Linked DNA regions of Homo sapiens. The protein of the gene in region 1 interacts with the protein of each later gene in a pairwise test. Each region holds a gene or a part of one and is shown in the gene's direction. Other genes may lie near its edges.

Region 1 (7,124 bases):
GACTCCTTCTTTCACAAAACATTAGGACACAAACACAATTTAACCAAGTTCTTACCACTTAAAAACCAGGTTTGCGTATTGTCCAGTTTCCAATATTTTATTCCTTATTTCCACCTGAGACCTCATCAGAATTTCGTTCACTGCCAACACTTTGATCATGACCACTTAAGACAGAGGCTTTTTTTTTTTTTACAGCTCTTCTCTCCTTCTGAGCCCACACTATCGCATCCCTTTATAGTCCAGCCTTTCTCCATTATCCAGTTCCAAAGCTGTTTCCACATTTTTAGGTAATCGTTACAGCAGCACCCCATTTCTCAGTACCAACTTCTGTTTTAGTCCATTTGGGTTACCATAATGAAATACCTTCAAATGGGTAACTTATAAACAACAGAAATTTGTTTCTCATGGTTCTGGAGCCTGGGGAATCCAAGATCAAGGCACTAACAAATTTAGTGTCTGGTTTCTGTGTCCTCATATGGTGGAAGAGGTGAATCCTGTGTCTTCACATAGCAGAAGGGCAAAACGGGCAAAAGGGACAAACAGGCTTCCTAAAAGACTCTTTTTTAAGGGCACAAATCCCATTCATGATGAGCAGAGCCTTCATAATCTAATCACCTCCTTCCTGAAAGCCCCACCTTTTAATACTATCACATTGGCAAATTGTCACATAGAAAGTTTGTGGGGACACATTCAGACCATAGCAATGGCTTGTTTAGAAGTGTATTTTATTCCCCAAATTTTGAGGGATTTTCCAAGAATCAGTCTGTTATTGATTTCTAATTTAATTACATTGTGGTCAGAGAATGTATCTTGCATGACTTCAATCCTTTTGAATTTGTTAACATTTGTTTATGGTCCAGATTATTGTCCATCTTCTAAACTTTCTGTATATGCTTAAGAACCATGTGTATTCTGCCAATTATTGGAGTGTTTAATAAATGTCAATCAGGTCAAGATGGTTGATAGTGTTGCTCAAGTCTCTTATAACCTTGTTGATTTTCTGCTTATTTGCATTATAAATTATTCAGAAAGGGGCATTGAAATATTTGACTATTGTGGATCTTTCAATTTCGCATTGCAGTACTATCAGTTTCTGCTTCATATATTTTTAAGTCCTGTTATTAGATGCAAAAATGTTTAGGATTGTTATGACCTTTTGATTAAATGGTTCTTTTATTATTATTAAATGATCTTCTTTATCTCTGGTTATATTCTCTGCTCTGAACTCTACTTTGTTTAAAATTGATAAAGTCACTCCACTTTATTTTCACTAGTGTTAGCATGATATATCTTTTTTCCATCCTTGTATTTTAAACTTATTTGTGTCTTTATATTTAATGTTTCCCTTCTTATAAGCAGCAATTTAAAAAATTCAAGATTTTAAACAATCTCTGACAATCTGACAATCTCTGCCTTTTATTCAGTGTGTTTAGACAATTTACATTTAATATGATTTATGAGTCTATCATCTTGCAATTTCTTTCCTACTTCTCTCTTTTCTTTGTTTTTTCTTGTTTTATACTTTTAGATTAATCAAGTATTTGTTTCGTTATCCTTTACATGACTTTTGTAAGCTTTTAACAATAACTTTTATTATTTAGTGGCGGCTTTAGGGTTTATAGTATACATCTTTATTTTATCATAGTCTACCTTTAAGTGGTATCAGGAATAGTATAAGGGTCAGGCGCGGTGACTCACACCTGTAATCCCAGCACTTTGGGAGGCCAAGGCGGGCAGATCACCTGAGGTCAGGAATTCAAGACTAGCCTGACCAACATGGAGAAACCCCGTCTCTATTAAAAATACAAAAATTAGCTGAGTATGGTGGTGTGTTCCTGTAGTCCCAGTTACTCCGGAGGCTAAGGCAGGAGAATTGTTTGAACCTGGGAGGTGGAGGTTGCAGTGAGCCGAGATCGTGCCACTGCACTCCAGCCTGGGTGACAGAGTGAGACTTTGTCTTAAAAAAAAAAAAAAAAGGAATAGTATAAGGATTCTAGGTTGATAGCTTTTTTTCTTTGAATATGTTTGAACTGTTATTCTGTCTTCTTGCTTGTTTTGATTCTAATGAGAAACTGATGTAATCCTTAGTTTTGTTCTGCTGTATACGACATGTATTTTTTTCCTTGGATGCTTTTAAGATTCTTTTATCACTCGTTCTGAGCAATTTGATTATGAAGTATTTTGATTAGCTTTCTTCATATTTCTTATGCTGAGCTTCTGAAGGCAGGTCTGTGGGTAAAGATAGTGACAGAAGGATTAAAATAATGATGGGAGCTTAGGGAAGTTCTCTTTTGAATAATTCAGTGTAATCAATGCAGTAGGAAGCAAGGTCATTGTGTGAGAATGAGGATAGGAGACAAGGCATTGGGTATGAATGAAGGTATAAAACTAATATGTAGGAAAATCAATGAACAGGGACCTGTAATGAGATGTTCAAGCATCTTTAAGGTCCTACTTAACATCAGTAATCATGAATTTAAAGTCAGCATGATTGGGTGTTTTTTTTCAGATTCAGCTGCATGGGTGCAAGCACTTAGTAAGTGTAAAGTAGGGATGGCTAATATGGTCATTTTGCCAAGTGATTACAGCAATTTAGAGAGGGGCAGGGAGTTGAGGATGCAAGCAAGTGGATGATTGTTGATTATTAAATATATCTACATCAAACTTCCTCAATCAGAGTGAAAACTATTAAAGGCAGTACCTTTCCTCTAGAAGGTTTTGGGCATGTATTTGCAGACCACACATGGGTGTATTGTAACAGCAGAAAGCAAGGGGCTAGAGGAAATTGTCTTACCAGAGCAAATAAACTCTGTTTTTGAATCAAGTGCTTTGTAAAGTTCTTAACGTGGTCCACGCAGCTCTGACTGTCGTGGATCCAGCCTATCAGGGCGCCTCCCCTTCACAGCAAGTTCCCACTGTTCTCTAAACTTCAGACACACTGGACCTCTTCCTGTCCCTTGCATTTTCCACATCTTTGCACATGCAGCTCCCTCTGCAGGAATGCTTTCCCCTTCCCCACTGGCCTATTCATGTCTGAGCTTTCCTGAGTAATTCAAATATTACTATAATAATAAGCTAAGTATTTGGTTAGAGTGCTTCCTTCTTAGCACTCGTCATAATTTTAATGTTTTTGTCATTGATAACTGTCTGTTAATATGCTGTAAGTTTCCCACCTTGCCTGTTTTTAGCCCCATAGAACCTAGCTCTCCCGCACATTTGTAGGTTGTAATAAACAACTTTTTTTTTTTTTTTTGAGACAAGGTCTTGCTTTGTCGTCCAGGCTGGAGTGAAGTGGTATGACTGTGGCTCACTACAGCTTTGCCCTCCTTGGCTCAAGCGATCCTCGCACCTCAGCTTCCTGAGTAGCTGGAACTACAGGCGTGTTCCCACGCCCAGCTAATTTTTTAATTTTTCGTAGAGACGGGGTTTCGCCATCTTGCCCATGCTTGTCTCAAACTCCTGAGCTTAAGCAATCCTTCTGCTTCTGTCTCCAAAAGTGCTGGGATTCCACTACTAAAGATTTGTAAACAAATGAATAGAGATGAAAGCAAATTAAGTGATATGTGAAGTCTGGTGAGGAGAGCAACATCTTTCTTTTGGAGAATTCTCGAGGCACCGGCTAATGCTATATGCCTATTCTTTTTTTTTTTTTTTTTTTTTTGAGACGGAGTCTCGCTCTTTCGCCCAGGCCGGACTGCAGTGGCGCCATGTCGGCTCACTGCAACCTCCACCTCCCAGGTTCACGCCATTCTCCTGCCTCAGCCTCCCGAGTAGCTGGGACTACAGGCGCCCGCCACCTGGCCCGGGTAATTTTTTGTATTTTTAGTAGAGACGGGGTTTCACCGTGTTAGCCAGGATGGTCTCGATCTCCTGACCTCGTGATCCGCCTGCCTCGGCCTCCCAAAGTGCTGGGATTACAGGCGTCAGCCACCGCGCCCGGCCTGCTATATACCTATTCTTTAATAATTTGCCCTGAACCTTGCAGAGGAACCTCTCTCCCTTAGACTCAGGACCCGAGATAGGCTTTGGGAGGCGCCTGCGCACTGGGCTCGCCGGATATACGCAAGGGCGTGGGGCGGAGCTCTGGTAACCCAGGCAACAGCCCGGAAGCCGCTGGCTGGGTTAACCTGTGGCGCGCTCCGCGGTTCCGGCGCCTGAAGTTTTAGCTGCGGTGGCGGCGGCAGTCGGGACCGACTGCAAGGCAGGTTGAGATGATGGATCTGAGGCTTGCAGCTCGCAGTCCCAACGAGCCTTAGGGACCAGGGCTACCAAAAGGGTGGGGAGAACGGTGGTGGCATCTGTCTGTTGCCTGGGATCCAGGCGCCCGGTTGGGGAATCCTTACTTCAGGAAGCGCAGCCGCGGCTCTGTGTTTTGAGAGTGCAAGTACGTGTCAGGGTGCGTGTCTGGGTATGTTTGTGCGTGGCGCCAGAGCACCTCGAGTATGCGCGTGCGCACCGCTTTCGGGAGCTTTTGCACAGAGCTGGTAATTGGGGGTGCTCGATTGTAGCGTTGGGGGAGTTCACCGTGTAGCAGGAGAGAGGCAAACTATCCAGGGTGCTTTGGGACCGGGAGCGTCATTTAAATCGATGGATGTCAGAGGGGCTTCTCAGAAGGCTCCTCCTGTGAGTTTTGAGGAGTCCGTGGAAGTTAACCCAGTAGAGAAGAGAGTGAGCCTAATGAGTGTTCCAAGCAGAGGGAAAAGAATGGTTGCAACTGTGTGTGAGGCGAGAGCTTGGTTTTAGGATTTGCGGGAGATGTGAGAGAACACTGGAAAGAAAAGTCAGCCGGGCCATATGGGGGAGAGGGTCTGAATGCCAAGCTGAGTTGGATTGCTTTTGACAGTGGGGAGCCATCCGAATCTAGAGGAAGTAGGTAAAGGGTTCAGATCTATTCTCTATCCATGTATTTAGGTAGGATTGATTCAACAGTGTTTGGAAAGAGTTCTTGTTTCTCTTTGATCAGTTTTCCACACCAGTCAGAGTGGATTTACTAAGTCCAGTCATAACTATCCCTTTTAAAATTCTTCAGTGGTTTCCTATGGTCTTAGGTGTTCAGATTGCTGTGGCTCACAAGACTACAATCTGCTGTCTGCCTTTCTTCCTTTAACCTCTCACCCTCTCAGATCTTTGTTAATTGAACTGAACTTCTCAAACTCTTCGTAAATGCATTTTCCCTTGCCTGGAATATTCTTTCCCCTGCTTCTAACTTTTATTCGTATTTTAGCTCTCAGTGCAAACATTTTTGGGGGTATTACAGAGAGGAGAAGCTTTTACTTACTGCATAGAGTTAGTTAGGTACTTTCATGGCACACAGAATTTACTTCCCATGCTGCCCTTTTGTTGTAAATACTTGTTTAATTGCGGTCCTCTTAGAAACTCTTAACTCTGCAAGGGCATAGACTATTCTACTTTCTTGTTATATCTGGTGCCTCGCTTTTAGATGGTGCTTCAAAATATTAGTTACATTAATAGATGGATGATGAAGTCAGTGAGTGAAGAGTGAAAGGGAGACTAATTAGAATAATGAGAGCCTGAACAAAAATATTTTTAGTAGAGATGGAGAAGAGCGGGCAAGAGAGATTTTTAGGGAAAAAGTTAATAGATTCTGTTATCTGATTCACTAAGAGATAAGGAACAGAGGTGATGCTGAGGTTTTAAATTGGAGCAACTAGGATTGTAATTCTGTAAATTCAGCTTAATTGAACATATTTATCGAGTCAACCAGTTATATATCAGCAAGTAGAGATTTGGGGTATGATGATGAGCTGTATTTTGATATACTGTATTTGTGATATTTGGGAGATGTATATAGTAGGTAGTTAGAAATGAGCATTTGGTGTTTTTGTTTTGTTTTTGTTTGTTTATTTTAAGAGACAGAGCCTCACTTTGTCACCTAGGCTGGAGTGCAGGGGCGCCATCGTAGCTCACTGCAGCCTCCAATTCCTGGGCTCAAGCAGTCCTCCCACCTCAGCCTCCTGAGTAGCTGAAACTATAGGCACTCACTGCCACTCCTGGCTAATTAAAAAAAATTTTTTTTTTAGAGACAGGGTCTTGCTATGTTGCACAGGCTGGTCTTGAGCTTCCTGCCTCAAGCGATCCTCCAGCCTCAGCCTCCCGAGTTGCTGGGATTACAGATGCGAGCCACTGTGTTTGAAGTTTTGAGGAAAGGTGTGAATCATTGATTTGGGACTCATTTTCACAGTGTGTTTGTTTGTCCATACATTCATAGCTTTGCTCAAGGGAGTTGGTGAGGTCACTGAGGGAGGATGTGAACTGCCCCTTTGTGATCAAGAAAGCAGCTCCATGAGAGCTGGCACCATATTAGACTTGTTTACTAATATCTTAGTTTATTTAGTTTACTTAGTTTACTTGTTTACTTGTATCTCTAATGCCTAGCCAGTGCCTGGTGTGTGCTGCACTCCCCCAAATAATTATTGAATGAAAGGAGAGGGTATCTAATGGAAAGACAAGAAGAATGAGAACTGAGATAGAACTGGGTGGAAATCCTTGATTAAATTGTTTGTGTGGAGGAGGACAATAGAGCCTGTGAAGAAAAGGAGAAAAGAATAGAAGAGGCCAGGTGTGGTGGCTCACGCCTGTAATCCCAGCACTTTGGGAGGCCAAGGCAGGTAGATCACGAGATCAGGAGTTCGAGACCAGCCTGACCAACATGGTGAAACCCCGTTTCTACTAAAAATACAAAAGTTAGCCGGGCATGGTGGCAAGCGCCTGTAATCCCAGCTATTCAGGAGGCTGAGGGAGGAGAATCGCTTGAACCCGGGAGGTGGAGGTTGCAGTGAGCTGAGGTCGTGCCACTGCACTCCAGCCTGGTAACAGAGCAAGACTCCGTCTCAAAAAAAAAAAAAAAAAAAAAAGAAAGCTTTTCAGTGCAAAGGTGGGGTCAGAGTTTTTGTAATTAATAAAACTTGGAGGTAGAACTAAGGATTAGTAAATACAGGTGCTAAAGTGTACCTTTTCATGAAGCTGGATGGCAAGAGAAGGGCAAAGATGGGATAGCAGCTTAACTATACCTGTGTTATCCTACTGTACACAGGTAGTAAATTACCACAGATTTAGTGGCCTAAAACAATTACTATTTATCATTTCACAATTTCTGTGGGTTG
Region 2 (7,025 bases), on another chromosome or scaffold:
ACGTGGCTGTAGTCCCAGCTACTTGGGGGGCTGAGCCCAGGAGGTCAAGGCTGCAGTGAGCCGAGATCATGCCACTGCACTCCAGCCTGGGTGACAAAGTAAGACCTTGTCTCAAAAAAAAGGAAAAAAAAATAAACCAGGACTTGATGATTTTGGAAAATTCTTAGCCTATCCAGATAGTGTGCTCCAGAGTATGGCTAGAAAACCTCTTGGTGAAGAGATTAGATATGTGACTCATGAATCCAATCAATCATCTCAGCAGAATCACTTCCAGCTTTGACTGAAAGGAACAGAAATGGGATGAAAAGAAGGAAGGTTGTTGGACTTCTGGGATCCTACTAGCAGAAGACAGACCAACAGAGCTAGTTGGCTGCAAGTTCACCTTCAAGAAAAGGACAGAATGACTCTTAAGGGTAGCTCAGAGACCAGCAAGGCCACCAAGGGCAACTCAGAGGCTGGTGGGGCTGTGGCTACCACCACAAGCCCAGACATCACAGGTCCAGATGATGGAGCTACTGTCTGTCTGCTTGGTTTCAGAGGGCAAGGCCACTGCCCCTGTGGGACACAGGGTGGGGCCCCCCTGGCTGGCTCAGAGAACAGAGCACCAGAGAATGAAGGCACAAATGATTATTTTTGGGTTTTGAAATCTAATGGATTCAGCCTGCTTGGTTGCAGACTTACTTTGGACTAGTAACTCCTTTATTCCTTTTATTTTCTCCCTTTTACAGTGGGACTTCTATGGTATGCCTATCCCACCATTTTATTTTGGAAGCAGTTTACTTGTTTTCCAGTGTCATAGGTCTGTAGATGGAGGAGAATTTTGTCCCAGTGTGGTCCATATTCAGAGTCTCACCCATATGTGATTCAGATGATGCTTAGATGAGATTTTGGGTTTAGAGTTGATGCTAGAATGTTAGGATGGAGTGAATGTGTTTTGTATATGGGAAGGACATGAATTTTGGGGGATCAGAGGGTAGGAGAATTGTGTCCACCAGAAAGATACGTTGAAATCCTAATCCCCAGTATCTGTCAACATGACCTTATTTGGAAACAGGGTTTTTGCAAATGTGAACAAGTTAAGATGAGGTTGTGCTGGATTAAGGCAGGCCCTAACCTAGTGAATGATGGGTGTCCTTCAAAGATGAGGGAAATTTAGATACAGTACGTACAGAGAAGGCTGTGTGAAGATGGAGGCAGAGATTGGAGTGATATGTCTGCAAGTGAGTGAACACCAAGCACTGGCAGCATCCACCAGAAGCTAGGAGAGAGGCATGGGACAGATTCTCCCATAGAAGCTCTGGAAGAACCAGCCCTGCTAACACCCACATTTTGGACTTCCAGCCTCCAGAACTGTGAAAGGATGAATTTTTGTTTTTTTAAAACACCTAATTTGTGGTAGTTGGTTATGGCAGCCCTAGGGAACTAATACACTATCTCTAAAAGTTTTTCTGTTAAGAAGGGTATAATAACTAATTAAAGGAGTGCCTTTCAACCTTCAAAAGAGTTTTTCAGCAACTGTTCTCAACTAATCTTCAATTATTTTGTTCTTTATTATTGTTCATGTTCGTATGTGGTATATGAAATTGGCTGTTACTAAAGTATAAGCCAATTTCACAATACAATACTAAAGTATTATATTTGTTTAGGGGAGCTTTTATTAATGCACTAAAAAATCTAAATACTTTTCTGCAATTTTTGAAATTGATTAAATCTTCACAGCACAATATTAGATTTTCAATGTGGATTTGTGGAGTTTTTTTTTTAAGAGTCAGGGTCTTGCACCATCGGCCAGGCTGGAGTGGAATGGCTTAACCACAGTTCACTGCAGCCTTGAACTCGTGGGCTCAGGTGATCTCCCGCCTCAGCCTCCCAAGTAGCAAGGACTATAGGCATGTGCCACCACACAGCTAATTTTTGTATTTTTTGGTAGAGACAGGTTCTCACTATGTTTCCCGGACTGGTCTCAGACTCCTGGGCTCAAGTGATCCTCCCACCTCAGCCTCCCAGAGTGTTGGGGTTGCAGACGTGAGCCACCCAGCCGTTTTAATAGCCTCTTGCAATAATTTTATTTTTCAATGCAGAATTCTCCCCAAAACCTAGAAGTAGAGTTTATATCAGTTTGTATTTATTACTCATAATTCAAATTGTGAGAAATTTCAACTGTGGATTCTTCTAGAAAAAAAAATTTATCATTATTTGAAATTTTTTTCATTATTTCAGTTATTAAAATATTAAAGTTGTTTACTATTTATTTAAGTTAAATTTAAATTATCCAGGTATATAGTTTTGAAGTAAACCCCATTTTTGGAATTTAGAATTTAACTGAAGACAGTTGAGGAGTGATATGTATATATATTACTTTTTCTTGAAATGACATTATTATAACAAAGATAATTTTTAAAGGAAAAATTTAATGCAACCTCAAAAATCCCTCATATTCACAACACCCTGATACAATAACTTTCTTTTTTACATTTCCAAATATATAAATATATACATGAGATACTCAGTTACCATGATTAATAATTATACACAATTCATTTTGTTAAGCATTAAATAGGTCATCTTTAAATAGTAGGCAGCTTCCTGAGAGTATTTTAAAATAAGCAAAAATTGGCTGTCATATTTTTCTAAAGTGAGATTGTTGGCTGTACAAATTCAAGTTCTTAAAATTATTGGGTTATTTTAACTTTTTACTTGTTTCTTTTTCTTTTTTCAGCACATAAATGCCCATCATGCTTATGAATCTCAGATCTCATCAATGGCAAAAGCCATGTCTCGATTAGAAGAAGAGCTGAGACATCAAGAAGATGAGAAAGCAACAGTATTAAATGACTTGTCATCTCTTAGAGAACTTTGCATTAAACTTGATTCAGGCAAAGATATTATGACCCAGCAATTGAATTCGAAAAACCTTGAGTTTGAGAGGGTAAGAAAGATAAATTGTCTTGGCACATTGTTTTATTGAGCCCTACTCTAATTATTTTACTTTAGTATTCACCACACCATGCATATACTTGTTTCCTTTTAGAGTAGTTACTTTTTTTTTTGTGATGGAGTTTTGCTCTGTCGCTTAGGCTGGTGGAGTTCAGTGGTGCGATCTCAACTCACCACAACTTCCGCCTCCTGGGTTCAACCAATTCTCCCTCAGGCATCTCAGGATGCCTCAGCATCCTGAGTAACTGGGATTGCAGGCATCTGCTAACACACCTGGCTAATTTTTGTATTTTTAGTAGAGATGGGGTTTCACCATGTTGGCCGGGCTGGTCTCAAACTCCCAACCTCACGTGATCTGCCTGCCTTGGCCTCCCAAAGTTCTGGGATACAGGCATGAGCTACTGCACCCAGCCTACAATAGTTACTTTTGACTACAGGATTTTGACAACCAGATTTGACTGCTTGATTCTTTGCAAGATTTCTCAGGCAAACGTAGTGATGAAAGTGGGTAATGTTTTGGAATAGATGGCTATCTAGGAGATTATGAATTTTCTGATTATAAATCAGCATATCCTAATACATTCTTTCTCTGTTTAAAAGTAAGACTTGAGGCCAGGTACGATAGCTTACACCCGTAATCCCAACACTTTGGGAAGTCGAGTCAGGCAGATTGCTTGAGCTCAGGAGTTTGAAACCAGCCTGGATAGCATGGCAAAACCCCGTCTCTACAAAAAATACAAAGAATTAGTCAGGCATGTGGCATGTGCCTATAGTCCCAGCTACTCGGGAGGCTGAGGCAGGGAAGGTTCACTTGAGCCCAGGATGTCGAGGCCGCAGTAAGCAGAGATTGTGCCACTGCACTCCAGCTTGGGCAACAGAGTGAGACCTTGTCTCAAAAAAAAAAAGTAAGACTTGAATGAAGGATTGAACAGTTCAGTGCTTCCGAAGTAGAATATTTTTCCCGATAAAAATCTCAAGGTGTTTAAATCTTAATTAAACAAGTCTATTTAGCTAGAATTTACCTTTCCCAGATGGAGGCATTACTTTAAATAACCTAGTGTTTGTTTTCAAACATGGATGTTTTCAATTTTCACTCATCTAGTAGTATCTTTATTTTCAGGTACTGAGAAACTATAATACTGGCTTGATTATGTAGTCAGAGTAAGCATATTCAACCAGAAGGGTCTCATTGCCCTTGTGGTTTTATCTTAATGACCGTCTCTTGATAAGGTACCATGACTAAAAATTATTTGAGGATTTGAGTAGATCCTATAGCCAAATAAGCCCATAGTAAAAATAGCAAAGATTATTTTGAAAATAAAGTGTCTTTCTTATACTTAAAGAAACAGTTCATAATCTTTAACCCATACCCAAAATGAAACAAGTGATAGGTGAATAGTTCCACAGAGCTATATTGTCAGATAAATAATTTTTTCAGAGTAAGTTTAAAATTGTACTGAAGTAATCTTACTTTGTTTTTCACGTAGGTTGTGGTGGAATTAGAAAATGTAAAGTCAGAGTCAGACCTACTGAAAAAACAACTTTCAAATGAGAGACATACAGTTAAAAACCTCGAATCATTGTTGGCTACAAACAGAGATAAAGAATTTCATTCTCACTTAACCTCCCACGAGAAGGATACAGAAATCCAGCTACTTAAGGAGAAGTTAACCCTTTCTGAAAGCAAATTGTAAGTGTCTTAAGTCAACTTATGCAAAGACAATTGCTTGTGAAGGATAGTTTTTTAATTTTTTTGAAGTGGAGGAAAGGTTAAGAGTATGAAAGATAGGCCAGGTGCAGTGGCTCACACCTGTAATCCCAGCACTTTGGGAGGCCAAGGCGGGTAGATTGCCTGAGCTCAGGAGTTTGAGACTAGCCTGGGCAAGATGGCGAAACCCCGTCTATACTAAAAATACAAAAAAAAAAAGCCAGGCGTGGTGGCACACACCTATAGTCCCAGCTACTCAGGAGGCTGAAGCGTGAGAATCACTTGAACCCAGGAGGTGGAGGTTGCAGTGAGCCGAGATTGCACCACTGCACTCCATCCTGGGCGACAGAGCGAGACGCTGTCCCAAAACCAAAATATTTGGCTTATACATCTGCTGCTTTTGGAAATTTAGGAGACTGACTCGGGAGAAACATCGTGTTGGGAGGTGCAGACCTGTATATCTTCACTACAGAGGTTGTACCGTGGGAGTAATGAGAAGAGAAAACGTTAGGAAAGCGCCTACAGTTGAGGAATGGACAGAGGAGTCAGTGAAGGAGAAAGTGTTCTCGGGAGAAGAAGAGGTGGCTGTGTCTTATGCTGTAGATTAGGAAAAAGGACTCTAAAAAGGCTATGAGATTTGACCCACATACATGTATTGATTACTTTGGGAGAGACTGATTATGTCATATTTTTAGAATAGAAGGATTTAGACATATTTGTAGGAAGAGGGAAAGAAACCCAGAGTAGAGTACACATGGAAGAATGAGCTTTTGAAAGGTATTAAAAATATTAATATTTCTCTTTCCAAGGCAAGAGTCAAGAAAGAGCCAATGAAGACACTTTACATCTTGGTGTTACCATTTATGTCTCGTTCAAATTTGTATCCCTAGCATTGCTTTAGTGCTTAGCACATAATAGATGTTCAGTACATGTTTCATAAATAAACTAAATGAATGAAAAAGAAAATGTGATAAAAGCTCTAGAAGTTTAGAGAATTCTTGTTGAAAGGTCTTGATCTTCTCTTTATTAATTTAAAAAACCCACAGCACCTGACTCTACAAAACGGAACGTTTATTTCTTGATTTTTTAATTTGTTTTTAAGAACTAGTCAAAGCCGGGAAAACACCATGCTTCGAGCTAAAGTGGCACAGTTACAAACAGATTATGATGCTCTGAAAAGGCAGATCTCAACTGAAAGATACGAACGGTAAGACAAATTTTTTTTACATTTGACAATGTTTTTATGTGTTCTCTATTGTACTTCAGAAAGTATTTAATATGGCTTTACAAATAACAAACTTTTTAAAAAGCTAATACATAAAGTACATTTCTTTGGTAATTCTTCCTTTTAAAAAAGGCAACAAGTGTTGGGGAAGATAATAGCTCTACAGTAACTAAAATAGCAAGTATTACATAGCGGATGCTATATAAATATTTATTGAATAAAATTGTTTAATAATCTGAAAAATAAGGTAAAATAGGAAGTATTGGATAAATATTTCCTATAGCATTCCGCAGGACAAAATTAGAATCCAAAAGTATTTCAAAGAGTATAGAGAAGCAACAACAATCCCTATAAGAGCTCCAAAATGTATGGTTCAAGTAGGATGTTCCACATACAAATCATAATAAAGGTAATGATTTGAAGATAGTAACAGCAGTTAACAAATGTGGACCAGACACTATATAAGTGTCTGATGAATCCCACCAACAATCTATTATTATGCCTACCTTATAGGAAACTGAGATCACATAAATAGTAAGTGGTAGGAAACCAAACAGATTTTAATTCTAAAACCTGTACCCTTAACCTCTTCAATGTATTCCCTACAGCTTGGTAATTTTCATATTCACTCATATTTTGGTTCATTTGCTTTACGTTGAAAAATTTAATCCCCAGGTGTTACTAACCCGGATTGAGACCTGCTTTAAATCGAAGTCTAACTTGAAAATCAGTTGCCAAGTTACTTGTCTTCCATTACTCTTTCCTACTATATTAATACCATAGACATCTGCATTCCTGAGATTTCATTCTCAATTAGTGGCCAAATTGCTTGTTAGATCAGTTTTTGAGTTATTCTTACCTATTTACGTCAAAACTTTGTAGTGATGTGCTATTTGAAGTATAGTGACAATTTGCTATGAAATCAATATTTACGATTTCATAAAGGCCTGGCTTGGTGGCTCATGCCTGCAATCCCAGCACTTTGGGAGGCCAAGGCAGGTGGATTTACTTGAGCCCACGAGTTTGAAATCAGCGTGAGCAACATGGCAAAACACCATCTCTACAAAAAAATTTTTGAAAATTAGCTGGGGCATGGTGATGGGTGCCTGTAGTCCCAGCTACTCAGGAAGCCGAAGTGGGAGGATTGATTGAGCT

Evidence for each region. Proteins that work in one complex are often made in the same cells at the same time.
Region 2: the proteins of SPICE1 (region 1) and CEP135 interact in binary tests that used the Homo sapiens proteins (3 or more experiments, as listed by UniProt).

Annotation. Positions count from the first base shown.
Region 1 is NC_000003.12:113,512,157-113,519,280, reverse strand, and holds the start of SPICE1 (spindle and centriole-associated protein 1), read left to right. Parts: upstream 1-4,124; 5' UTR 4,125-4,384; exon of another isoform or gene 4,385-4,623; intron 4,624-7,124.
Region 2 is NC_000004.12:56,014,929-56,021,953, forward strand, and holds part of CEP135 (centrosomal protein of 135 kDa), read left to right. Parts: intron 1-2,719; coding exon 2,720-2,929; intron 2,930-4,424; coding exon 4,425-4,627; intron 4,628-5,747; coding exon 5,748-5,852; intron 5,853-7,025. UniProt on the Homo sapiens protein: Centrosomal microtubule-binding protein involved in centriole biogenesis. Acts as a scaffolding protein during early centriole biogenesis.